Linked DNA regions of Homo sapiens. The protein of the gene in region 1 purifies or fractionates together with the protein of each later gene. This does not show direct contact. Each region holds a gene or a part of one and is shown in the gene's direction. Other genes may lie near its edges. The genes, in order: LLPH, LIN28A, ZNF317, URB1, DDX21, ZNF346 and BMS1.

Region 1 (2,348 bases):
AATTAGCTTATTTTTTTGAAATTTGTCATCTTTTTGACTGACATTTTCCAGAGAATTGCTGTAAAGCCACAAGATGGAGCTCAAGCTAAGCACCAAATCATTTTGGAATTAGATTGAGTGAGCTAAATCACATTAGGAATTGAATGTAACACTTTTTGTGTTTTAAGAAATTAAGTCTGAAATCAAAATATAATTTAAAGATGATCAAAACTGCTTCAAGTATTAACTCATTTAATCTGCCCAGCAATCTCATGAGTTTGGTACTAATGTTATCTGAGTTTGGTACTAATGTAATCTCTGTTTACACATGGGGAAACTGAGGCACACAGGCCATACAACTAAAACTGAAATCTGGGATTCAAATTTAGGCAGTGTGGCTCTAGAGCCTATACTCTTACAATGCCATTCTGCCTCTCAAGGATGTGCAAACTCTTGCTAAGAGAGAAAGGTGATTTTAGGATAGAATACCTATTTTTGGGTCAACCTGTGATAGATTGGGTTCATGTGGGCTCAGGATCAGATAAAGAGCAGGTTTAAGTAGAATAATGATGTACAGAACCCTCCTCAAATCTCTAGGCCTAAGGCAGACTGGATTTCCTCAGGTGACACTTCATTAGGAATGGGCTGACCAATCCAAAAGGGGAAGGTGTAGGCCATGATCAGTAGTTGCCCAAGGTACTAATCAGAGAAGAAATGCAAACTGCAGTTGAAGCTCTAAGGTAGAATCAAGTAGTGGTTTTGACCACATCCTATTTTCTACTGTCACATTAGTGTAGATATCTCTTCCCACTATGTAATTCACATGCTACATCAAATAAGGATGCAGCAGTATATATTTGCTTATTAGGAAATTCAGATATTTTCAAAATTTGGATCCGTGTTTCTGGAATATGGCTTAAGAGTTGGAGAAGAAAAATAGCTATAAATGACTTGAATCAAATATCTGAAATGGACTGGTGGTGATGGTGAGGGGCAGCAATGTGTAATTTAGGGAAGTGCTGACCACAACATAAAATTGGGAGGAATCTAAGGCATTGCCAAATTTATAAATACTACAATAGAAATGCAGATGCTAAGCTGTTGGCTAATCTTACTAGTTAAGTGACTAACTTCTGATGCCATCTGGCAGAGTGATTCAAATTTGTGCTAAACACAAAATATATGTCTTTTTCCCTCTATTTGCCTGCATGTATTAATAAAAACACTGTTGCAGTAGACACATACCAATTTTACAAGGAAATGTTTAGGGGTGAGGTGGGACTGTTAAATACTTACATCAGGTCAAAGGTCACTCTGCTGTTTCCAGAGGACTGTCAGGTAGCCAGGAGGCCCAGGGCCACTTTTGGGCCTGCTTACAAAACCCTAAATTTTCCGCAGTTGAATGCCAAGAGTCTTTTGCAGTTATTTTAGAGCAGGGGAGAAAATACAATGTGTTGCCAAATAAGCTTAATTTGGTAGGCAAGCAGTAAAAATAACCCAACAGCCAACATTTAGAGAATGCGTACTCTCTTAAATGCTTTATGTATATTATTTAATCTTTAAAACACTGTGGGATCAATACTTTAATTATCCCTATTTTCAGATGAGAAAACAGTTTGAAAGGTTAACTAAATTTACCCAAAGTCATGCAACTGCTAAGTAGTGAGCAAGCCGCCTGTCCCAGAGTATAGAATGAATACCTATGATGGAAAGCTACAGAGAGACAGACTTTTATTTGATTTAAGGAAGCGCCTTCTAACCAAGATTTTGGGAGCTGAAATGGGCACCTTGGGATCCTTGAGGTGTCAGTCTAAGGTGGACAGGCATTTGGTTGGAATGTAGCAAAATGGATTCAAACACTGTAGAGTTATCCTTCAGAATCTATCGGGGATTGGTGCCAGGATCTTCACAGATACCAAAATCCACAGATGCTCGAATCGCTTACATAAACTGGTGAAATATTTGCATATAACCCATGCCCATCCTCCCATATATAGTCATATGTCACTAAATGACTGGGATGTGTTCTGAGAAGTGTGTCACTAGGTAATATCGTTAATCATTGTGTGAATATCATAGACTGTACTTACACAAATCTAGAGGGTATCGTCTACTACACTTAGGCTATGTGATATAGCCTATTGCTTCTAGGCTACAAATTGGTCAAGCAAGTTACTGTACTGAGTACTGTAGGCAATTGTATCACAATGGGAAGTATTTGTGTATCTAAACATAGAAAAGGTACAGTAAAAATACAGTATAAAAGATAAAAAAATGGTACACCTGTACCACTTATGAATAGTGCTTGGAGGACTCGTGCTTGGGGTGAGTCAATGAGTAAGCCATGAGTGAATGTGAAGGCCTCAGAC
Region 2 (3,500 bases), on another chromosome or scaffold:
CTGAAACCTCTGCCTCCGGGGTTCAAGCAACTCTCCTGCCCCAACTGCCCAAGTAGCTGGGATTACAGGCGCCCACCACCACACCCGGCTAATTTTTGTATTTTTAGTAGAGACAGGGTTTCACCATGTTGGCCAGGCTGGTCTCGAACTCTGGACCTCGTGATCCACCTGCTTCAGCCTCCCAAAGTGCTGGGGTTAAAGGCGTAAGCCACCGTGTGTGGCTGAGCCACCATGCCCAGCTATTTTTACTTTTATTTTATTTATTTATTTTTGAGACGAAGTCTTGCTGTGTTGCCCAGGCTGGAGTGCAAAGGCGCCATCTTGGCTCACTGCAACCTCTATAGTGTGACACTTTAAATTTCGTAATTTTATATTTGTTGATTTCTTCCAAATGCTTGTATTTACAAATTTTTCTGTTTGTTGTTGTTTGTTTGTTTGTTTTTGAGACAAAGTCTCACTCTGTCGCCCAGGCTGGAGTGCAATAGTGTGATCTCAGCTCACTGCAACCTTTGCTTCCTGGGTTCAAGCAATTCTCCTGCCTCAGTCTCCCAAGTAGCTGGGATTACAGGTGCCCGCCACCACGCCCAGCTAATTTTTTTTATTTTTAGTAGAGACAGAGTTTCACCATGTTGGCCAAGCTGGTCTCGAACTCCTGACTTCAGGTGATCCTCCCGCCTCAGCCTCTCAAAGTGCTAGGATTATAGGTGTGAGCCACCGTACCCGGCCCTCTGTTCTATTTTATTAAGAACTTTAAACCTGAATAGCTACAAAAATGTCATGGCATCTGCTTATATAATTACGATTTTTGTTAATGTACTGGTAGACTTTGTTGTTCTTAATCGTAGTGACTCTTTGAGTCAGTTTCCTTACCAGTAAAATAGGAGTACCATCACATTTGATTCCTACCCTACAGGAATAAGAGTTCCTTGTCTTTTGGTATAATAATGGAAATTAATGTTAAAATTTACTGCATTTCCCTTCACCAGAGTAAGCTGCACATGGAAGGGTTCCGGAGCTTGAAGGAGGGTGAGGCAGTGGAGTTCACCTTTAAGAAGTCAGCCAAGGGTCTGGAATCCATCCGTGTCACCGGACCTGGTGGAGTATTCTGTATTGGGAGTGAGAGGCGGCCAAAAGGAAAGAGCATGCAGAAGCGCAGATCAAAAGGAGACAGGTATGGATTGGAAGGCAGCTTATATAGGTTGCTAAGGGCATCCCCAGTCTCCCAATCCTGTCACTTTTTGGGTCACACTGCAAAAGACAAAGGGAAGCCTGTGGTCCCTGGCAGCATCTGGAAGGCTGAGCGCCTGCAATAGGTGTGGGCAAGGGCAGTAGGTGAGGAGGCCACTGGGGGTGACTTAGTGCTACTTGGGACAAGTAAGTTTGCTCTGTGGTCTCTAAGCCTCAATTGTTAAGTGAGGCAGTGATACTAACATCCTAGGATGGTTTTAGAATTAAAGGAGATCATAGATTTGCAAATGGTGGGACAAGACAGTATTATCTATATCTGTTGCTGCTTTACCAGGTCTGCAAATGGCTGGTTTCCTTAATCTTGCTTGGGCTTAAAGCCCCTTAGCTCTGAACAGATACTATAATTTGGCTTCTTTAATTTCTCCTATATTAAGGGTATGGAAGAATCTCTCCTATCCCCCAAGTTGCAGTTCCTAGTTGGGGTCAGTAACTTATATTTCTGGTATCTTGGTATTTTCAAGTTGACATGAATCTGAAGAGATCACCTAGACAATTAGATGTGGAAAGGACTTAGAGATCATTTAGTAATAGTCCTCCTTTTGCAAGTGGGAAGTTTGGTCTCTGGGAAGGGAAGTAAGTGACAAACCTGTACCAGAGCCCAGGTGTCCTCATTCGTGGGAGGCATCTGGCCTCTTCTTGCTCCTTTCTCTTACTTTTACGATCTTGCTTTGTACTAGGTGCTACAACTGTGGAGGTCTAGATCATCATGCCAAGGAATGCAAGCTGCCACCCCAGCCCAAGAAGTGCCACTTCTGCCAGAGCATCAGCCATATGGTAGCCTCATGTCCGCTGAAGGCCCAGCAGGGCCCTAGTGCACAGGGAAAGCCAACCTACTTTCGAGAGGAAGAAGAAGAAATCCACAGCCCTACCCTGCTCCCGGAGGCACAGAATTGAGCCACAATGGGTGGGGGCTATTCTTTTGCTATCAGGAAGTTTTGAGGAGCAGGCAGAGTGGAGAAAGTGGGAATAGGGTGCATTGGGGCTAGTTGGCACTGCCATGTATCTCAGGCTTGGGTTCACACCATCACCCTTTCTTCCCTCTAGGTGGGGGGAAAGGGTGAGTCAAAGGAACTCCAACCATGCTCTGTCCAAATGCAAGTGAGGGTTCTGGGGGCAACCAGGAGGGGGGAATCACCCTACAACCTGCATACTTTGAGTCTCCATCCCCAGAATTTCCAGCTTTTGAAAGTGGCCTGGATAGGGAAGTTGTTTTCCTTTTAAAGAAGGATATATAATAATTCCCATGCCAGAGTGAAATGATTAAGTATAAGACCAGATTCATGGAGCCAAGCCACTACATTCTGTGGAAGGAGATCTCTCAGGAGTAAGCATTGTTTTTTTTTCACATCTTGTATCCTCATACCCACTTTTGGGATAGGGTGCTGGCAGCTGTCCCAAGCAATGGGTAATGATGATGGCAAAAAGGGTGTTTGGGGGAACAGCTGCAGACCTGCTGCTCTATGCTCACCCCCGCCCCATTCTGGGCCAATGTGATTTTATTTATTTGCTCCCTTGGATACTGCACCTTGGGTCCCACTTTCTCCAGGATGCCAACTGCACTAGCTGTGTGCGAATGACGTATCTTGTGCATTTTAACTTTTTTTCCTTAATATAAATATTCTGGTTTTGTATTTTTGTATATTTTAATCTAAGGCCCTCATTTCCTGCACTGTGTTCTCAGGTACATGAGCAATCTCAGGGATAGCCAGCAGCAGCTCCAGGTCTGCGCAGCAGGAATTACTTTTTGTTGTTTTTGCCACCGTGGAGAGCAACTATTTGGAGTGCACAGCCTATTGAACTACCTCATTTTTGCCAATAAGAGCTGGCTTTTCTGCCATAGTGTCCTCTTGAAACCCCCTCTGCCTTGAAAATGTTTTATGGGAGACTAGGTTTTAACTGGGTGGCCCCATGACTTGATTGCCTTCTACTGGAAGATTGGGAATTAGTCTAAACAGGAAATGGTGGTACACAGAGGCTAGGAGAGGCTGGGCCCGGTGAAAAGGCCAGAGAGCAAGCCAAGATTAGGTGAGGGTTGTCTAATCCTATGGCACAGGACGTGCTTTACATCTCCAGATCTGTTCTTCACCAGATTAGGTTAGGCCTACCATGTGCCACAGGGTGTGTGTGTGTTTGTAAAACTAGAGTTGCTAAGGATAAGTTTAAAGACCAATACCCCTGTACTTAATCCTGTGCTGTCGAGGGATGGATATATGAAGTAAGGTGAGATCCTTAACCTTTCAAAATTTTCGGGT
Region 3 (3,500 bases), on another chromosome or scaffold:
TCTTTCCAGTTTCTTATGTTGAATGCCTGTCACATCCCAAAGAATTGCAGTATCATACTTTATTGTATTTTAATTATAAATATCAAATATCATGGCTTCTTTGGCATGCAGATTTAGAATTTTTTTCTTTTAATTTTCATTTCTGTGACTTTTTTTCTGGTTATCTTTTGGTCATTGTTTGCCAACTGCATTGCTCTGTGGTCAAGCATTTTCTGAGACAAACATGGCCCCATGAGTGCTGTCTCATCATGTTCAATCTGCACATAGTTATTGAACTGCCTGCTTAAACTGGATTTGTGAGAGCTCTGGTGGTGGCTTCATCCATTTCTCCTTAGAATTCTGTCCCCCCTTTTTTTTTTTTAATTTTTGTGTTTTCCTTTTTTTTGAGGCTGTGTTTTATACACACAGGCACACACACACACCTCTTTTTGGATTTATAACTTTTTATTATGTAATACTTCATTTTTCTCTATGAGCCTTTTTGCCTTAATCTATTCTGTCTGATACTAACATTCAAACCAGCTTTCTTTTTTTTTTTTTTTACTTGCCTTATATATCCTTTTATTTCCATTCTTATTGTACTCTTTTTTCTTTCTTTCTTTCTTTCTTTCTTTCTTTTTTTTGAGACGGAGTTTCACTCTTTTTGCCCAGGCTGGAGTGCAATGGCGCGATCTTGGCTCACTGCAACCTCCACCTCCTGGAATCAAGTGATTCTCCTGTCTCAGCCTCCCAAGTAGCTGGAAGTACAGGCGCATGGCACCACACCCAGCTAATTTTTTTATTTTCAGTAGAGATGGGGTTTCATCATATTGGTCAGGCTGGTCTCGAACTCCCAACCTCAGGTGATCCACCTGCCTTGGCCTCCCAAAGCATTGGGATTACAGGCATGAGCCACCGCGCCCGGCTCTTATTGTATTCTTATATTTTAGATATCTCTTGTACGTAGCATATAATTGGATTAATCTATTCTGTGAATATTAGTATTTTAGTTAAAGCATTTATTCTGTTAGCATCTTCTGTATTAATATATTTGAATGTTACATTTGTCTTCTGTTTTTTCTCTAGCTTCTTTTGTGTATTTTTGTCATTCTCCTTTTTTATTTTCTGTACATTTTGAATTTATTTACTCTATTATTTCAGTGGTTGTTCTAAATAATTCTTACCCATGCTCATTCACTAAATCTAGATTTGCATATGTTACTCTCCTGATTTACATGGTTTTCTTATGCATTTTCATTCTTTCTTTATTGATATATCATAGTTGCACATATTGAGTTCTTTTTTTAAACCTCAGAAGAAATTATTATTGCTATTGCATACCATCATTTCTTGTTTCATTATACTCACATGTTTATCACTTTGAGCACTTTACTTGGTTCTTACACTTTTTGGTGTAATTCTTCCACTGTTTGCTTTGGTTCTTTAATTACTTCTTTCTCCCTGAGGTATGTCTTTGATGATGTCTCTTTTCTGTGGGTTGCAAGCCCACAGGAACTTTGTTTTTTGGTGCTCAGAAAACACCTCTTTCTCTCTTTCTCAGTGGACATTTTTGGTGGTAATAGAATTTTATATTTCAGAACTATGAAGATGTTCCATTATCTTCTGGCTTCCACTGTTAATGATGAGAAGTCAGCTGTCAGTCTAATGTTTGTTTGTTTGTTTTCTGAGACAGAGTCTCACTCTTGTTGCCCAGGCTGGAGTGCAATGGCGTAATCTCGTCTCACTGCAACTTCTGCCTCCTGGGTTCCAGCAATTCTCCTGCCTCAGCCTACTGAGTCGCTGGGATTACAGGCATGGGCCATGACACCCAGCTAATTTTTGTATTTTTAGTAAAGACAAGGTTTCACCATGTTGGCCAGGCAGCGGTTTTAGGAGCCTAGAAATGTGAGTTTTTCGTTTTGTTTTGTTTTGAGACAGGGTCTTGGTATGTTGCCCAGGCTGGTCTCGAACTCCTGCGTGCAAGTGATCCACCTGCCTTGGCCTCCCAGCATGCTGGGATTACAGGTGTGGGCCACCATGCCCAGGCTTACTTTGTTTCTTAATGGAGAGATATTTACGGTGTGTTTTAACAAGACCTCCAGGTGACTCCCATGTAACTTAAAGTTTGAGAACTATTGCTTAAAAGGTAACCTGTCTTTTTCTCCTCTGGCTGCTGTTCAGATATTCTTTTTACCGTTGGTATTATCTGGTTCATTGTGCTTAAGATTTTATCTCTCTTCAATCTGTTTATATTTTCCTTCAAAATGAAAAATCTACAGCCACTATATTTTGCAGTGATTGCCTAGGCTCCTTCTCTGTCTCTCATCAGTAACTCCAGTTAGAAATGGTTCAATTCCTTATCTTCTGCCCCCACGTGGTTCTTAGCTGTATTTATGTTCCTCAACTCTTTTTCTGTGCTTCCCTTGCATTTATTGCTACAACTGGCTTTGAAACTTCAGCCTTCATAAAAATTTCATGTAGAGTTTATTAAAATACTGATTCATCAGCCCACCCCAAAGAGAATTGAACTGAGATATGATCTGGGTGTCAGAGTTACTTAAAGTGTTCCAGGGGACGCTTATGCAGCAGACTATATTTAAGAAACAAATTATTATTATTATTATTATTATTGGCTGTGTATAATCTAAAAGCTATTTACTTAGGGCTTTTGTTGTGGGTTTCCATTTTGCTTTTTTTTTAGCAATTGTAATTGCCCTTTAGAAATCATAAATTTTTAATTTTCTGAATGTTAATTTCTTGCCAGCACATGAATTTGAAACCTATCATCTGTCTGTACTTTGTGTTGCATTTGAAATAGTTATGCATGGAAGGTTTAATTGGGGCACCTAGGTTGCTTGTTGGAAACAGAATTCCTACCCTGCTCCCCACCCCCTGGGACATCTCATCTAGCTGGTTGAAAGGAGGGTATATTGATTTACTAATGTAATGCATTTCTGGACCAAGAAAATGGCATATGATGTTCTCACAACCTTTGTTGCCTTCTCTGTCTCTCGCTATATATATATTGTATATATTATTTATATACTTTTTTTCTTTTTTTTTTTTTTGAGGCAGTGTCTCATTTCTGTCACCCAGGCTGGAAGTGCAGTGGCATGATCTTGGCTTACTGCAACCTCCGCCTCTCAGGTTCAAGCAATCTTCCCACCTCAGCCTCCCAAGTAACTGGGACTACAGGCATGTGCCACCATGCCTGGCTAATTTTTTTGTATTTTTAGTAGAAACGGGGTTTCACCATGTTGGCCAGGCCAGTCTTGAACTCCTGACTTCAAATGATCTGCCCGCCTCAGCCTCCCAAAGTGCTGAGATTACAGGCATGAGCCACCATGCTGGGCCTATATTTACGTGAATAACAGTGGTAGAAATGGTTCTAGCAAGGGCAGAAATACCAGTCAGTAAAAGTAACAAAATAATTATTCTCTCTACAGTATTTACATCTGCAAATTCTGAATATCCTGGGATACTGTGATTAAGTTGAATATGGGGATAAAATCAAATATTGG
Region 4 (3,500 bases), on another chromosome or scaffold:
CTCTTTAATGCCCAGATTTTATTGACATTGGTGGCGAATCCCTATTCATACACAGACAAAGCATCTGACTTTGTCCAAGAAGCAAGCATGCTGCAGGCCACTATGACGAAGCAAGAAGCCGATGACATGAGCATTCCCATCTCCCACATTGACGGTATGTTCCATTCTGTTCTGCGCTGCTCAGAGGTCTGAAGACCAAGCCACAGTGACGTGTTAAGAGATTGAGAACAAGAACTGCACTAATGCCCTAGGCCAAGTGCACACAGTCCCTTTGCAGCAAAGACCAGCCTGTTCTGGAAATAATCTCCTTATGTGTTCATGTAATGGGAAACACTTGTTGTTTTATTTGCATAGTATTTACTGGGTGCCAGGTAGGGTTTTAAGCTCTTTTTAAGTTCTAACTCATGTAAATCTCATAAGCAACCCCAAGAGAAAAGAGTATTATTATTCTACTCATTTTATATAGAGATAAAGCGGCTGGGGCACAGAGAGGTTTAGTATAATAACTTGCTCAAGCTCATACAGCTACTACATAGCAAAGTCAGGATTAGAACGCAGGTACTCTGGCTCTGGCCTGTGCTTTAACCCTCACACTATTTTGCCTCTCAGATTTTGGCTTGTTTGCCTGAATATCTGGGTTAAAGTTCCTGGGCTTCTTGTGTCACTTGAGGAAACTTCAACCTATTACCACCTCAGCTGAATATCCTGCATTTTATCAGACAAAGATACAAAAGATTTCATAGGCAATGTTTTTGTCTGTTTAGGGTCAAACTATGTTAAATGCTCCCCCCAAGAGGAATTTGGCTTTTTTCTTTTTGCACGTATTCTGCTTCTGCCTCCCTGTGGGTATTTGCAGTGAAACCCTTCAGTGGCTCTCACATCAGCTGGATTCTCCTCTTTCTGTCTCAGATGTTCTCGACATGGTGGATGTCCTGGTGGAGGGCAGTGAAGGCTTGGATGAGGAAATAGGGTTCACGTTGAGTGAAGACATGATCCTGCTCACGTTCCCATTCAGTGCGGTAGTCCCTGCGGCCCTGGAAGCCAGGAATAAGTTGCTCCTTGGGACAGGCAATGAAGCAGGTACCTATGTATAGTCAGGATGTCTTGGCTGCACCTGGCCGGCTAGTCTGTGCAGGGTGGGAGGTGGGATTCCAGGGGCTCTGGGATCAATTGCTGAGAATCCAGGGCAATAGGAGGTCAGAACCCCCAGAGTGATAGCTACCCAGCCAGCAGAGCTAGGAGCACAGTGGGAGGGATCTTGGGGCTGGCTAGGCTTTTGGGAAATTGGTCATTTGAGCGTGAGTCTGAAATAATGTGTTTGCCTGGCTGCCCAGACAGCCTCTGTAACGTTGATGTTTTTTCGTCAACATTTATTCTTGATACGTTGATGTAGAGGATGAATCCTTCATACTTGTTGGATTTTCCAGGCAACTTAGACCCAAGGAAGTGCTCACAGATTATAGTAGCATGATTGGTTGGGAGAACTCAGGCTTTGCTGCAGTAACAAATAAGCCCTGACTTGTCAGTAGTTTAATAAATAAGGGTCTGTTTCTAGACCATGCTGTGGTCCAATACAGGCCAGGTGGCTCTTCTGGTTGGCTGTCCTTTAGGAGGTTGGTCAGGGATTCAGGCTGCTCCCGTTTTGTAGCTATGCCATCTCAATTTATGGCTTCCAAGATCACCATGGAAAGGGAACTGGAAAGGGTGGACAGTCAAGCAAGGGGTGTTATGGCCTGGAAGTGACTAACCAGGCATGTGGTCCCAGCCTACACGCAAGAGAGGCTTGTGTGCCGAGGCACAGTAAACGGATTGGTGAGCACCTAGCAAGTCCTGGTCCCAGGTGGCTTTTGCCTGGCCTTTTACATGCCTGGGTCTTCACTCCTGGGCCTCGGGAGTGGATGTCTGACTTTGCTGTATATGTTTAATAAAACAGAGCCTAGTACAGTCTCCAGTAGTAGCAATTCCTTCCCTGTGGTTATGTGTCCCCTCATGGAGTTGCATGAATTTTTCAGGGTCTTGCCTGTATGTGGAAGAAGGTGGTGTTGGTAGGTCACAGAAGGGTGGGCCCAGCCAGCCTCTTCCCATATGCATCTCGTTCCTTTGCAGCGGAAAACGTTGTGACATATCTGACGGCAGTGCTGACTGACCTCCTCCACACCCAGAGGGACCCCCTGGCTCTGTGTCTCCTGCTCCAGGCATATGATAAGCTTGAGCCTCCATGCCTGGTGCCTTGCTGCCAGCAGCTCTCACGGTTTAACAGATACTACAGCCTCTGGATCCCGGAGCAAGCCCGAGAGGCCTGGGTGAGCTGCAGCCACAGCTGTGGTCACTGCTGCTGTGCAGGGTTCTTCCCAGGGTCCCAGCTGGCTGGGCCACAGCTGTGCAGTTGGGTAGCCAGACAGCCTGCAGGGTGAAATTTCTTACCCTAAAGTCCCCTGCATAAGAGAGGAAGCTAAGTAGTATCCCTGGTGCTCAGCTAACATAACTGAACACACAGGACTCAGTGATGCAGCCAAATTAAATTCCCCATTGGCTCCCTGATAATGATAATAGGTTAATTCCTCTTCCAGCCTGGGGCAGGAGCGTTGCCTCTTCCTTTTTTTCCTTACCTTGTTATCTGTGCGTGCTTGTCTCCTGGCTCTCCTCTGCAGACCTTAGCATGGCCCTAGACAAACTGTGCTCAGCTGTCACACATGGCCCCTCAAGGCCTCCAGCAGGGTCTCTTCTGTTAAAGTTGGGGAAGGAAAGGAAAAAGTATATTTTCTTTTGCTGGGGACTACATTCTCTTAATGGGATTCTGGCTCCAATGTGCAGGGTATTTACAATGCTGTGTGGGGCACGAAATTTGTGGTATGCATTTTTGTGCATTCATTTCATTTTAGCTGCATTCGAAAAAGCAGTCAGTTTAGACCCTCCTTATCTTGTGATATTGGTAGCAATAGCCAACAGCGATTGCATGTTTTCTGTGTGTTTTTTGGAGGCATACCGGGTCCTGTACTAAGTGTACTATGTGTATTTTTGGCCGTTTAATCCTTACTGTAACTCTGAGAAGTAGGCCGGGACTCTCACCATCCTTTATGCATATGGGGAAACCGAGGCCCAGAGCGGTTCCAACACCAGTCAGTGGCGGAGTCAGGATTTGGCCCAGGCAGTCTGGCTCCAGAGCCCTGACCCATAATGTTGCCACCTTCCCCCACACGTAGGCCACAGTGATAGCCAGACAGCAACTTATGTGGCAGTATTAGAGGTTCTGTCCTGCCCCTCGTGGTTGCTTGGAGTGGGTGTCCACCTTCTGTGGAATAAGACTTAGCAGTGGTTCTCACCCTCCAGGGTGTGTCGGAATTCCCCAGAGGGCCTTTTCAAACTGGACTGCCGGGTTCCAGCCACAGTGTCTGGCCCGGCAGGTCTGGGTGGAGCCTGAGAATTTGCATTTCACACATGCTGCTGCAGGCCTGGGGAACACTGACAACCACCAAGTTTCAGGGCATGTTACAGCCTTG
Region 5 (3,500 bases), on another chromosome or scaffold:
CCTGTAGTCCCAGCTACTCGGGAGGCTGAGGCAGGAGAGTGGCGTGAACCTGGGAGGCTCCCACGCCCGGCTAATTTTTGTATTTTTAGTAGAGACAGGGTTTCACCATATCGGCCAGGCTGATCTCGAACTCCTGACCTCATGATCTGCCAGCCTCAGTCTCCCAAAGTGCTGGGATTACAGGCGTGAGCCACCGTGCCCAGCCGGAAGTAATTTCTTTCCTGATGCTATTGTCCTCCAGTAGTGCATATTTCTTTCTTTCTTTTTCATTTATTTATTTATTTATTTGGTGAGACAGAGTCTCACTCTGTGGCCCAGGCTGGAGTGCAGTGGCGTGATCTTGGCTCACTGCAACCTCTGTTGCCCAGGTTCAAGCGATTCTCCTGCCTCAGCCTCCCGAGTAGCTGGGATTACAGGCGCCCACCACTGCGCCTGGTTAATTTTTGTAGTTTTAGTAAAGATGGTGTTTCACCATGTTGGCCAGGCTGGTCTTAAACTCCTGATCTCATGATCCACCCACCTTGGCCTCCCAAAGTGCTGGGATTACAGGCGTGACCCACCACGCCCGGCTGCATATTTCTTTTATGTCACTTTGTACACTAGACTGTCACTTCAAATATTTACTATAATTGGGTGCTTTAAATTTTGTTGATATTTTTCACTTCTAATGTTTTTCCCACTAGATTAGGAGTGCCATGAGTATCTTTATCATTATTACTTAGCATATTACTTTGTACTTGTAGGTATTTAACAAATATTTTAGAGTAACAATACAGTTAACTGTGGTACCCCACACAGATAAAAGTACTTACTAAAAACCCAGCAAATCTTGTCATTGTTTTTTATAGTTGAACGCATGAGGAATGGGATTGATATCCTGGTTGGAACACCAGGTCGTATCAAAGACCACATACAGAATGGCAAACTAGATCTCACCAAACTTAAGCATGTTGTCCTGGATGAAGTGGACCAGATGTTGGATATGGGATTTGCTGATCAAGTGGAAGAGATTTTAAGTGTGGCATACAAGAAAGGTAATCCACAAATTCAAGAAGCTGATAAAAAAGACCAAAGGAAGGGTGGTAACTCTGTCTCCTGGGTTCAAGTGACTCTCATGCCTCAGCCACCCTAGTAACTGGGATTACAGGCACCCACCACCACGCCTGGCCTCGTATTTTTAGTAGAGATGGGGTTTTGCCATATTGCCCAGGCTGGTCTCAAACTCCCAGCCCCAGGTGATCCGACTGCCTCACCCTCCCAAAGTGCTGGGATTAGAGGCATGAGCCACTGCGCCTGGCCTGGTGACTAAGTAGTTTTCTAAGAGATTAATAAAGCCTTGGGAAATTGGAATGGGGCTCATTTTATCTAGAAACTTGGATTAAAAAAAAAAAGTCATTACTCTGGGATTAAAGCTGGTGAGGAAAAAAAAAGTCATGATTTATCATATTACCACAATGGGGAAAACTTGGAAAAGTAAAGAAAAATACCATCTTCTGTCATCTTGATGTGGTCTGCTTTTGGTGTATTCCTGATGTTTTGCATTTTATTGTATATATGTGTTGATTATACTCTGACTATACATATAAAAATTCAGCAAAAATACTGTATGAAGTGGTTGGCCATGACTTAATTCTACCATCTGCCTAGTTTGATTTTTATTCAATATAAATAGTTCTGTTTAGCCACTTTTATACAGATAGCTTCTCACCTCAATATCTGGAATTGTTTTTTGTTTTTTTTTTTGAGACAGGGTCTAAATCTGTCACCCAGGCTGGAGTGCAGTGGTGGGATCTTGGCTCATTGCAGCCTCCACCTTCCAGGTTGAAGCAATCCTCCGAGTAGCTGGGACTATAGATGTGCGCCACCATGCCCAGCTAATTTTTCTGTTTTTTGTAGAGCTGGGTTTCACCATGCTGGTCTTGAACTCTTGGACTCAAGTGATCTTCCCTCCCACTTTGGCCTCCCAGAATGCTGGGATTACAGATGTGCTCTACCGCGGCCGCCCTTTTTTTATTTTTAAGATAGGCCCTCACCCTGTCACTCAGGCTATAGTACAGTGGCACCATCATAGCTCACTGCATCCCTAAACTCCTGGGCCTCAGCTTCCTGAGTAGCTTAGGGCTACAGGCGTGCGCCACCATGCCTGGCTAATGTTTTTATTATTGATAGAGACAGGGTCTCACTGTGTTGCCCAGGCTTGTCTTGATTCCTGGCCTCAAGTGATCCTCCTGCCTCCACCTCTGAAAGCATTGGAATTACAGGCATGAGCCACTGTGCCTGGCCTGGAATTGGTTCTTTAGGATAGATTTCCAGAAGTGGAATTACTGAGCTTAAAAGTGTAAAAAATTCATGCTCCTCAATATACATTGTCAAATTCTCTCCAGAAGGGTTCTATCACACTTCTATTTGGAATGTTTGAGAATGTGATGTCACTCTTAAGTAGAATTGAACAAACAAAAATAGTAGCTGGACTCAATGATTGGACAAGAATTCTAAATTCATAAAATATTGAGAATAGAAATCTTAGAATAGATTTCGTTTGTAATTCAAAAGCCTAATGGTCAGAAAGCAAAATAACTTTAAAGTACTTTCACTATTTTAAGGATCTTTTAGATAAATTACCTAGCGGTATTTCTTTGCCCATTGGGAAACCTCTGTCTTCCAGTTTTGTGTCCTCAGTGCCCGACTTGGCCTCAGGTGGTTGCTGGTGAACATTGATGGACTGTGGAAGTATTAGGTTAGGTGGAATACTATGTAGGCTTGTTTGGATTATTCATACTGACTTTTTTTTTCCCCCTCCTCAAAGATTCTGAAGACAATCCCCAAACATTGCTTTTTTCTGCAACTTGCCCTCATTGGGTATTTAATGTTGCCAAGAAATACATGAAATCTACATATGAACAGGTGGACCTGATTGGTAAAAAGACTCAGAAAACGGCAATAACTGTGGAGGTAAATTATTTACTTAGTTGCCAGAATATAAAATTGTATATATTTTTTTCTTGTCTGTTAGTATTAAGACTGGCAAATGCTCTTTTTCCAGATAAATACTAAATCCATGTGAAAAGCCAAGGAAAAATATTTCTATTTGAGCTGTATATGATATCTGTGTTTTTATTTTTATTTTTTGAGATGGAGTCTCGCTCTGTCACCAGGCTGGAGTGCAGTGGCGCAATCTCCGTTCACTGCAACCTCCACCTCCCAGGTTCAAGTGATTCTCCTGCCTCAGCCTCCTGAGTGGCTGGGACTACAGGCATGCGCTACCACGCCCAGCTAATTTTTGTATTTTTAGTAGAGACAGGGTTTCACCATGTTGGCCAGGATAGTCTCAATCTCTTGACCTCGTGATCTGCCCATCTCGGCCTCCCAAAGTGCTGGGATTACAGGTGTGAGCCACCACGCCCGGCCCGATATCTGTGTTTTTAAAATTTCATCATCTATGGCCTCATTTCATTTCAGAATGATTTGGAACTTAAATCTATCTGAGTTATGTAAACATA
Region 6 (3,500 bases), on another chromosome or scaffold:
GCTTTGTTGCCCAGGCTGGTCTCAAATTCCTGGTCTCAAGTGATCCTCCCACCTCAGGCTCCCAAAGTACCAGGATTACAGGTATGAGCCACCACACCTGGCCCTTTTCTCACAATTTATAATTCAGAAAGGCAAGATAAACTCTATGACCCTGGGCAAGTTATTTTACATATTTGCACCCTATTCAGAGATCAGGCTTTCTGAGAGAGATGCTGGGATCCCTTTATGTAGTCTTGAAATACATGGTTTCCTAGCCTAATCATAATCAACAAGTAGAACGCAATGGGAGGCTGGGTGCGGTGGCTCATACCTGTAATCCTAGCAATTTAGGTGGCTGAGGCAGGCGGATTGCTTGAGCTTGGGAATTCGAGACCACCCTAGGCAATATGGTGAAACCCCGTCTCTATAAAAAATACAAAAATTAGCCGGGTGTGGTGGCATATTCCTGTAGTCTGGCTACTTGCAGGGGTGGGTGGGAGAATTGCTTGAGCCCTGGAGGTGGAGGTTGCAGTGAGCCGAGATCGTGCCACTGCACTCCAGCCTGGGCAACAGAGTGAGACCCTGTCTTAAAAAAAAAAAACCTAATGGTCCACTTGTTCAGCAAACTCTGAGCATCTACTGTGTGCCAGACTCCAGCTGGGTGTGAAGGATAAGAAACAAAAATGAGTCAAATAGTCCGTGTTCCAATGTCACACTTGAGTTCACAGAAAAGTCTCCTAAGCTATGACACTGTCAGTTTAGGGTGGCAAGTGGTATGACAGAGGTCTATTTAATGTACTCTGGGAGCACAGAAGAGGAGCAGGGTTAATTCTTCCTGGAATACACAAAGGGACTTGACAGTTGTTTACTGAATGATGTTTTTTTTTTTTTGAGAGAAAGTCCCCCAGAGGAAAAGCTTATATTTAAATTGGGTCTTGAAGGCTAAGCAGACACGCTGCCAAGCAGGAAAGGAAGGAAGCACATTTTAGACAGCAGGAATGGCCAAAGCAAAGCAAGGAAGCATCAGAGAATAAAGTGGGGGATGGTGAGTAGAGTCTGGGACAAAGTAGCTGGAGAAGAATCTAGAAAGTAGGTTGGGGTTAATGTGTGAGGGGGGCCATAAATGCCTGTTCTGTTATGGGCAGTGGGGAACCATTGAAGATTTTCTGGTGGGGCAGTGGTATGATCAGACCTGTGTTCTTTCTTCCAACCAGAAGAGCAGCAGAAGCAAAGACAAGAACCAGTGCTGCCCCATCTGTAACATGACCTTTTCCTCCCCTGTCGTGGCCCAGTCGCACTACCTGGGGAAGACCCACGCAAAGAACTTAAAGCTGAAGCAGCAGTCCACTAAGGTGGAAGGTACTGGTTTTCCTGAGTAGTGCTATAGTGGGACCCCTGCCGTCCTCAGGGCACTACTGCCAGGGGCTCACAGAGATCCTCACTGAGGCCACAGACTTGAAGAAGTTGAATTGCTTTTGAGAACCCTTAAAAATCTCCAAGTAGACCCAGCTTCACTGAAATGCAATCTCAGAATTATGCTCACCTAACCTCCCTTTCTTTGGTTATAGGTTTTTCTCTATAGGCTGAGCTTTTGTCCTGACTAATAATTATAACTCAGGAGTGCCAAAGTCCTCCAGGCCACGCATACCATGAGAGCATTCTATCTCCTACCTCTCCCACTAGATTTTTCCATCCCAGCATCCACCTGCCCTTATTACTGCATGTTCCAAGTTGAAAGCTAAATCCTTGTCTTTTTCACATGCTCAGGTTATGGCCTACTCACTTTAATCCTCAAAAGCTGCCTGTTCTCCTCAAGACAGGGACTTGCCTTTCAAAGCTGAATACTTCAGTGCTGCTACTACTGCCCCACAATCTGTAACTGCCATGAATTCATTCCCAGTACAGTGACTTCTGAAATAGCCCCCTTTATCTCGTCACGACTAGGGCTCAGCCCTCACTTTCATCTCATTAACTCCTGACTTTCTGGGGTTTTAACCTCTGCTAATTGCAATTAGTCAAGAGTGAAAGTTCTTTGATGTTTATTTCATTGTTTTCTTGATAATTTTTGCTTCTCTATTTTGGACCAAGAAGTAGACTACACTATTAGTAATACTATTATCCTTTTTGTGTTTACTGACAACTGTGTTTTGGAAGCCTTCAAAGGTAGGGTGAAAAATCACTCATAATTTTTTTTTTTTGAGATGGAGTCTCGCTCTGTTGCCTAGGTTAGAGTGCAGTGGCATGATCTCGGCTCACTGCAAGCTCTACCTCCCAGGTTCATGCCATTCTTCAGCCTCAGCCTCCCAAGTAGCTGGGACTACAGGTGCCCACCACCATGCCCAGCTAATTTTTTTGTATTTTTTAGTAGAAACGGGGTTTCACTGTGTTAGCCAGGATGGTCTCAAACTCCTGACCTCGTGATCCACCTGCCTCGGCCTCCCAAAGTGTTAGGAATACAGGCATAAGCCACCACGCCGGCCAAAACCTTTTTTTTTAAATAGAGATGGCTTCTCACTATATTGCTCAGGCTGGTCTTGAACTCCTGGCCTTAAGTGATACTCCCATCTCAGCTTCCCAGAGTGCTGGGATTACAGGCATGAGCCACCACACCTGGCCACTCATAATTACACCTTTTTATCACACCCACATCTAGTTATTCATGGTATGAAACAGCAGAATGTGGACTTTGAAGTCACAGAGTCCCAGGTTTAAAGCCTGGCACTGTTACTGTTTATATGACTTTTTTGTGTCTGAACTGCCTAACCTATAAAATGATAATAATACTGTCTACTTCATCGGTTGTGAGGATACAATAATGTGTATTAAAAACACAGGACATAGGCCGGGCATGGTGGCTCATGCCTGTTGTAATCCCAGCACTTTGGGAGGCTGAGGTGGGCAGATCACTTGAAGTCAGGAGTTCAAGACCAGCCTGGTCAACACGGTGAAACCCAATCTCTACTAAAAATAACAAAAATTAGCTGGGTGTGGTGGCACGAGCCTGTAGTCCCAGCTTCTTGGGAGACTGAGGCAAGAGAATCGCTTGAACCCGGGAGCTGGAGGTTGCAGTGAGCTGAGATCGCACCATTGTACACCAGCCTGGGGGACAGAGCAAGACCTCGTCTCAAAAAAAAAAAAAAAAAAACCAATTTTATAAGGTCACAGACTTCTCTTCCCACAAATGGGAAAATTCTCTGCATTATGCCTTGTCCCTGAAATTTCATACTCGAGATTATTTTCCATATTCACTTTCAGCTTTTGCCACATACTTTGTTTTTATATAGTTGTGATCATAATGCAGGTACCCTTTATATCCCGCTTTTACTTTTCATTTAATTTTACAGCTTAAGCACATTTCCATGTTATTACACAACTTTATAACTATATTTCTGAAATTAAACACTTTTTAATGTAAAGTAATATAATCATGTTGTAAGAGATAAGGAAAACATGGATAAATGGAAAGAAAAGTTACCCATAATTTTACCATTCACAGATAAACACTGTTAACATTTTGGTTT
Region 7 (3,500 bases), on another chromosome or scaffold:
GCTGCTTTGGCTGTCTTTGTCAGGGGATGAGCGCAAGGGGCTATTGATCGGCCCCTTGCTGGCATCACTCCCTCTTAAACTTTTCACTGGGTACTCTTTTGAACTATTTTTTTCCCCACCATATACATGTATTTTTAAAACATTAATGTGCTAATTTCTATTAAAGCAATGTGGATTTTTCTGAAAGTTTTAATGTTTTAATAAGCTTTTTATTGAAATGTTAATGTACATACAGAAGAGTGCCCAAATCATAAGTGTGCAGCTAGATGAACTGTAGCACACCAGCTGCCACGCCCTGGACCAAGCAGTAGCCTCGCCCTGTGGCCTCTCCCAGGCACTGCCTCCCCAACCCACAAAATAGCTACTTTGCCAGTTCCTGACGTAGATTTGTTCTGCCTGGTTTTGACTTTTATAAAATACAGCACATTCTATTTAGCCTGGCTTCTTTGGTTGAGTATTACAGAACACATCCATGTTCTTGTCTATGGCAGACATTGATTTATTGTCATTGTTGAGTTCCAGTATATGACTGTGTCACCATTTATCCATTGATGGGTAAAATGATTTCCTATTTTTGGCCGTTATCCCACGGCCCTTAACACTAAGGTCTGGATATGGGACTTGCAGGTACGGAGGGGCACACACACTTCTGCTGGAGGATCCCTGGGTAGGGTGGAGACTCCAGGGCACCTGTGCTCTGCTTCAGTGTGGAGGCTTCTGTGTCGTGTTCTGGGAGCACAGCGGCTTGGCCTCCACCACCAGCAGCAGCTTAAAGAGTTCCTGCTGTTCCACGTGCTTGCTGACAATTGGCCTCTTCAGTTTTTTTTTTTTTATTTTAGGTTTTCAATGCCTGCCTGGACTTGTGTTTTCATTTAGATTTTGGTTTCTTAGAACTGTTGTTATTCTCTTCACAGCTTAACAATGCATTTGAAAAGATTTGTTTTCATGTGGAGTGTTCAGTTTTGTAATAAGAGGGTTGTTCAAGGCATCAGTCTGCCACTCTGCTAGAAACAGAAGTCTCCCAGGCATTTCTTTTTATATAAAGTAGTTAATGAAATTTTGAACCGTCTTACATGAATTTTTATTAAAATACACTTCAGGATGTGGTGCCCATTATCCATTCTACTCTTTTGTAACAAGTAGATTTCTCTGAATTCTTGAATTCAAAAACAATCGGGGTTCCTAAACAAAGAATATGGAATATTATTGGGGATGATGTCTTTAATAATACATTTCAAGATAGGAGAAACTTGTTCTATATAGTTGACTTTAACAAAAGCCTAGGGCAAAACTTTCAATTTATTAACAGTATTTATGAGGCAGTTAAGAATTTGGGTCATCCTCCGTCTCCACTAAAAATACAAAAAATTAGCCAGGCGTGGTGGCGGGCGCCTGTAGTCCCAGCTACTCGGGAGGCTGAGGCAAGAGAATGGCGTGAACCCAGGGGCAGAGGTTGCAGTGAGCCGAGATCATGCCACTGCACTCTAGCCTGGGCGACAGAGCGAGACTCCATCTCAAAAAAAAAAGAATTTGGGTCATCTCAATTAAATATAGAATTTAAGATTACCTTGAAAATTCAGTGCAGAGTATTTTGCCTTCATCTGTTGTTTGAGTCTCCCTTCTTTTAGCCATCCTTCCATCAGAAATAGAATACCAAGTTAAACTTCTTAATTAGAATCAGGAATCAGGACTCTTTGGCTGCTGATTGAAGGAAGAACTGTCCTTAAATCCAGAGTGGGCCAGTTGTGGTGGCTCATGCCTGTAATCCTAGCACTTTGGGAGGCCAAGGCAGGTGGATCACCTGAGGTCAGGAGTTCAAGATTTCAAGACCAGCATGACCAACATGGTGAAACCCCATCTCTACTGAAAATACAAAAATTAGCCGGGCGTGGTGGTGTGTGCCTGTAGTCCCAGATACTTGGGAGGCTGAGACAGGAGAATTGCTTGAACCCAGGAGGTGGAGGTTGCATGAGCCGAGATCACGGCACTGCTCTCTAGCCTGGGCGTCAAGGCAAGACTCCATCTCAAAAAAACAAAACAAAACAAAAAAAACATCCAGAGTGGTTGATAGTCAAGACAAAAAGCTAGATTATTTTTGTTAGTCTGGGAAATAAGCACCTCAGTGGCCCAAAGACAAGGCCTGAAATTTCCATGAAAAGAAACTGGGATCTATTCATCTGTTCTGTTGAGACCCCATAGTTCCATACCATAGAAATGGGCACAGTGGGTTTTGGGGGGAGAGTTGTAAGTGTAAGCTGTCTGTTCCTCTGTTTACTGAGAATTGTGGGTGTCCACTGAGGCAGTTCATATTTGGCAGATGATTGAGTCCTGATTTCTCAGGGCCGGCAGACTCTGGTGTTACTAATCTTGTGGAAAAGTCAACCCATTGAGAAGATTTTATGCAGAAGTTTTAAATGCACATTGATCATAATTTGAATATGTCACAGTCTTTGTTTTTCTTTTCAGCCAATCCTGAGGCAAAAGAAACATTTTAATTCACTGCACATTCCAAAAGCCTTGCAGAAGGCCCTGCCATTTAAGAACAAGCCCAAGACCCAAGCAAAGGCAGGCAAGGTGCCAAAGGACAGGCGGAGACCGGCCGTCATACGCGAGCCTCATGAAAGAAAGGTACTGTTGCCCATGCTGTACTGCACGCTGCGTTTAGATAGGAAAAGAACACTCTCAATAGCACACTTCCTGTTTCTACTGTAGTCTCAGTTATTCAGGGCACTGGAACTAAAGTCAGAGGAAGAGCCAGAGTCCATTTCCCTTTCTTTGCCTGGTCCTGCTCTGCCCTGTGCTTTTCATGGGGGATAACAGGTACATGGCTGGGGAACCCTTCTGTCTCGGTTAGCTGCACACAGTGTCCACAGAATGATGAACAGAGGTGGTAAAGGTAAAATGGGATCACACCTGTGTCTCCATGCCAACAATGACTTCCTAGCACAGGATGCATTTTCATGCAGTTAATATTCATTTGGATCGTGGGTTGCCTCTAGTCTTAGTGCTTAGGATGCGAGTGTGTGGTGTCTGAGAGCATTCTGATACTCACCGGCTTTTGTCCTTGTCAGATCCTTGCACTGCTGGATGCTCTGAGTACGGTGCATAGTCAGAAGATGAAGAAGGCCAAGGAGCAGCGGCACCTGCACAATAAAGAGCACTTCAGAGCCAAGCAGAAGGAGGAGGAGGAGAAGCTGAAGCGGCAGAAGGACCTCAGGAAGAAGCTCTTCAGAATTCAGGGGCAGAAGGAAAGAAGAAACCAGAAGTCCAGTTTGAAGGGGGCTGAGGGCCAATTGCAGTGAGCCTTTGGACTGGAGGGACTGTCCCTGGATCTGCGGAGGTAGACAGTTTCAAACATCACAGTTTGAATGCCTGTGAATGACAAGTCAGTGGGAAAGAGCTCAAGAGATGTCTCTACTCAAACTGTGCCTGCAGGAGGAGGAACAGAGAAGCCTGGGCTGCTGGGACTGGGTTCATTCTCATGACTTGGGGCTGTCGAG

The links.
Region 2: the proteins of LLPH (region 1) and LIN28A purify together in Homo sapiens (co-immunoprecipitation; one large-scale study listed by IntAct). This does not show direct contact.
Region 3: the proteins of LLPH (region 1) and ZNF317 purify together in Homo sapiens (affinity purification with mass spectrometry; one large-scale study listed by BioGRID and IntAct). This does not show direct contact.
Region 4: the proteins of LLPH (region 1) and URB1 purify together in Homo sapiens (affinity purification with mass spectrometry; one large-scale study listed by BioGRID and IntAct). This does not show direct contact.
Region 5: the proteins of LLPH (region 1) and DDX21 purify together in Homo sapiens (affinity purification with mass spectrometry; 2 studies listed by BioGRID and IntAct, with this or other methods). This does not show direct contact.
Region 6: the proteins of LLPH (region 1) and ZNF346 purify together in Homo sapiens (affinity purification with mass spectrometry; one large-scale study listed by BioGRID and IntAct). This does not show direct contact.
Region 7: the proteins of LLPH (region 1) and BMS1 purify together in Homo sapiens (affinity purification with mass spectrometry; one large-scale study listed by BioGRID and IntAct). This does not show direct contact.

Annotation. Positions count from the first base shown.
Region 1 is NC_000012.12:66,118,403-66,120,750, reverse strand, and holds part of LLPH (protein LLP homolog), read left to right. Parts: 3' UTR 1-2,348. UniProt on the Homo sapiens protein: In hippocampal neurons, regulates dendritic and spine growth and synaptic transmission.
Region 2 is NC_000001.11:26,424,317-26,427,816, forward strand, and holds part of LIN28A (protein lin-28 homolog A), read left to right. Parts: intron 1-986; coding exon 987-1,171; intron 1,172-1,925; coding exon 1,926-2,142; 3' UTR 2,143-3,500. UniProt on the Homo sapiens protein: RNA-binding protein that inhibits processing of pre-let-7 miRNAs and regulates translation of mRNAs that control developmental timing, pluripotency and metabolism.
Region 3 is NC_000019.10:9,143,397-9,146,896, forward strand, and holds part of ZNF317 (zinc finger protein 317), read left to right. Parts: intron 1-3,500. UniProt on the Homo sapiens protein: May function as a transcription factor. May play an important role in erythroid maturation and lymphoid proliferation.
Region 4 is NC_000021.9:32,351,513-32,355,012, reverse strand, and holds part of URB1 (nucleolar pre-ribosomal-associated protein 1), read left to right. Parts: intron 1-15; coding exon 16-154; intron 155-909; coding exon 910-1,080; intron 1,081-2,106; coding exon 2,107-2,303; intron 2,304-3,500.
Region 5 is NC_000010.11:68,966,170-68,969,669, forward strand, and holds part of DDX21 (nucleolar RNA helicase 2), read left to right. Parts: intron 1-848; coding exon 849-1,034; intron 1,035-2,806; coding exon 2,807-2,952; intron 2,953-3,500.
Region 6 is NC_000005.10:177,043,196-177,046,695, forward strand, and holds part of ZNF346 (zinc finger protein 346), read left to right. Parts: intron 1-531; exon of another isoform or gene 532-1,021; coding exon of another isoform or gene 1,022-1,024; intron 1,025-1,193; coding exon 1,194-1,338; intron 1,339-3,500.
Region 7 is NC_000010.11:42,827,795-42,831,294, forward strand, and holds part of BMS1 (ribosome biogenesis protein BMS1 homolog), read left to right. Parts: intron 1-2,466; coding exon 2,467-2,628; intron 2,629-3,071; coding exon 3,072-3,302; 3' UTR 3,303-3,500. UniProt on the Homo sapiens protein: GTPase required for the synthesis of 40S ribosomal subunits and for processing of pre-ribosomal RNA (pre-rRNA) at sites A0, A1, and A2.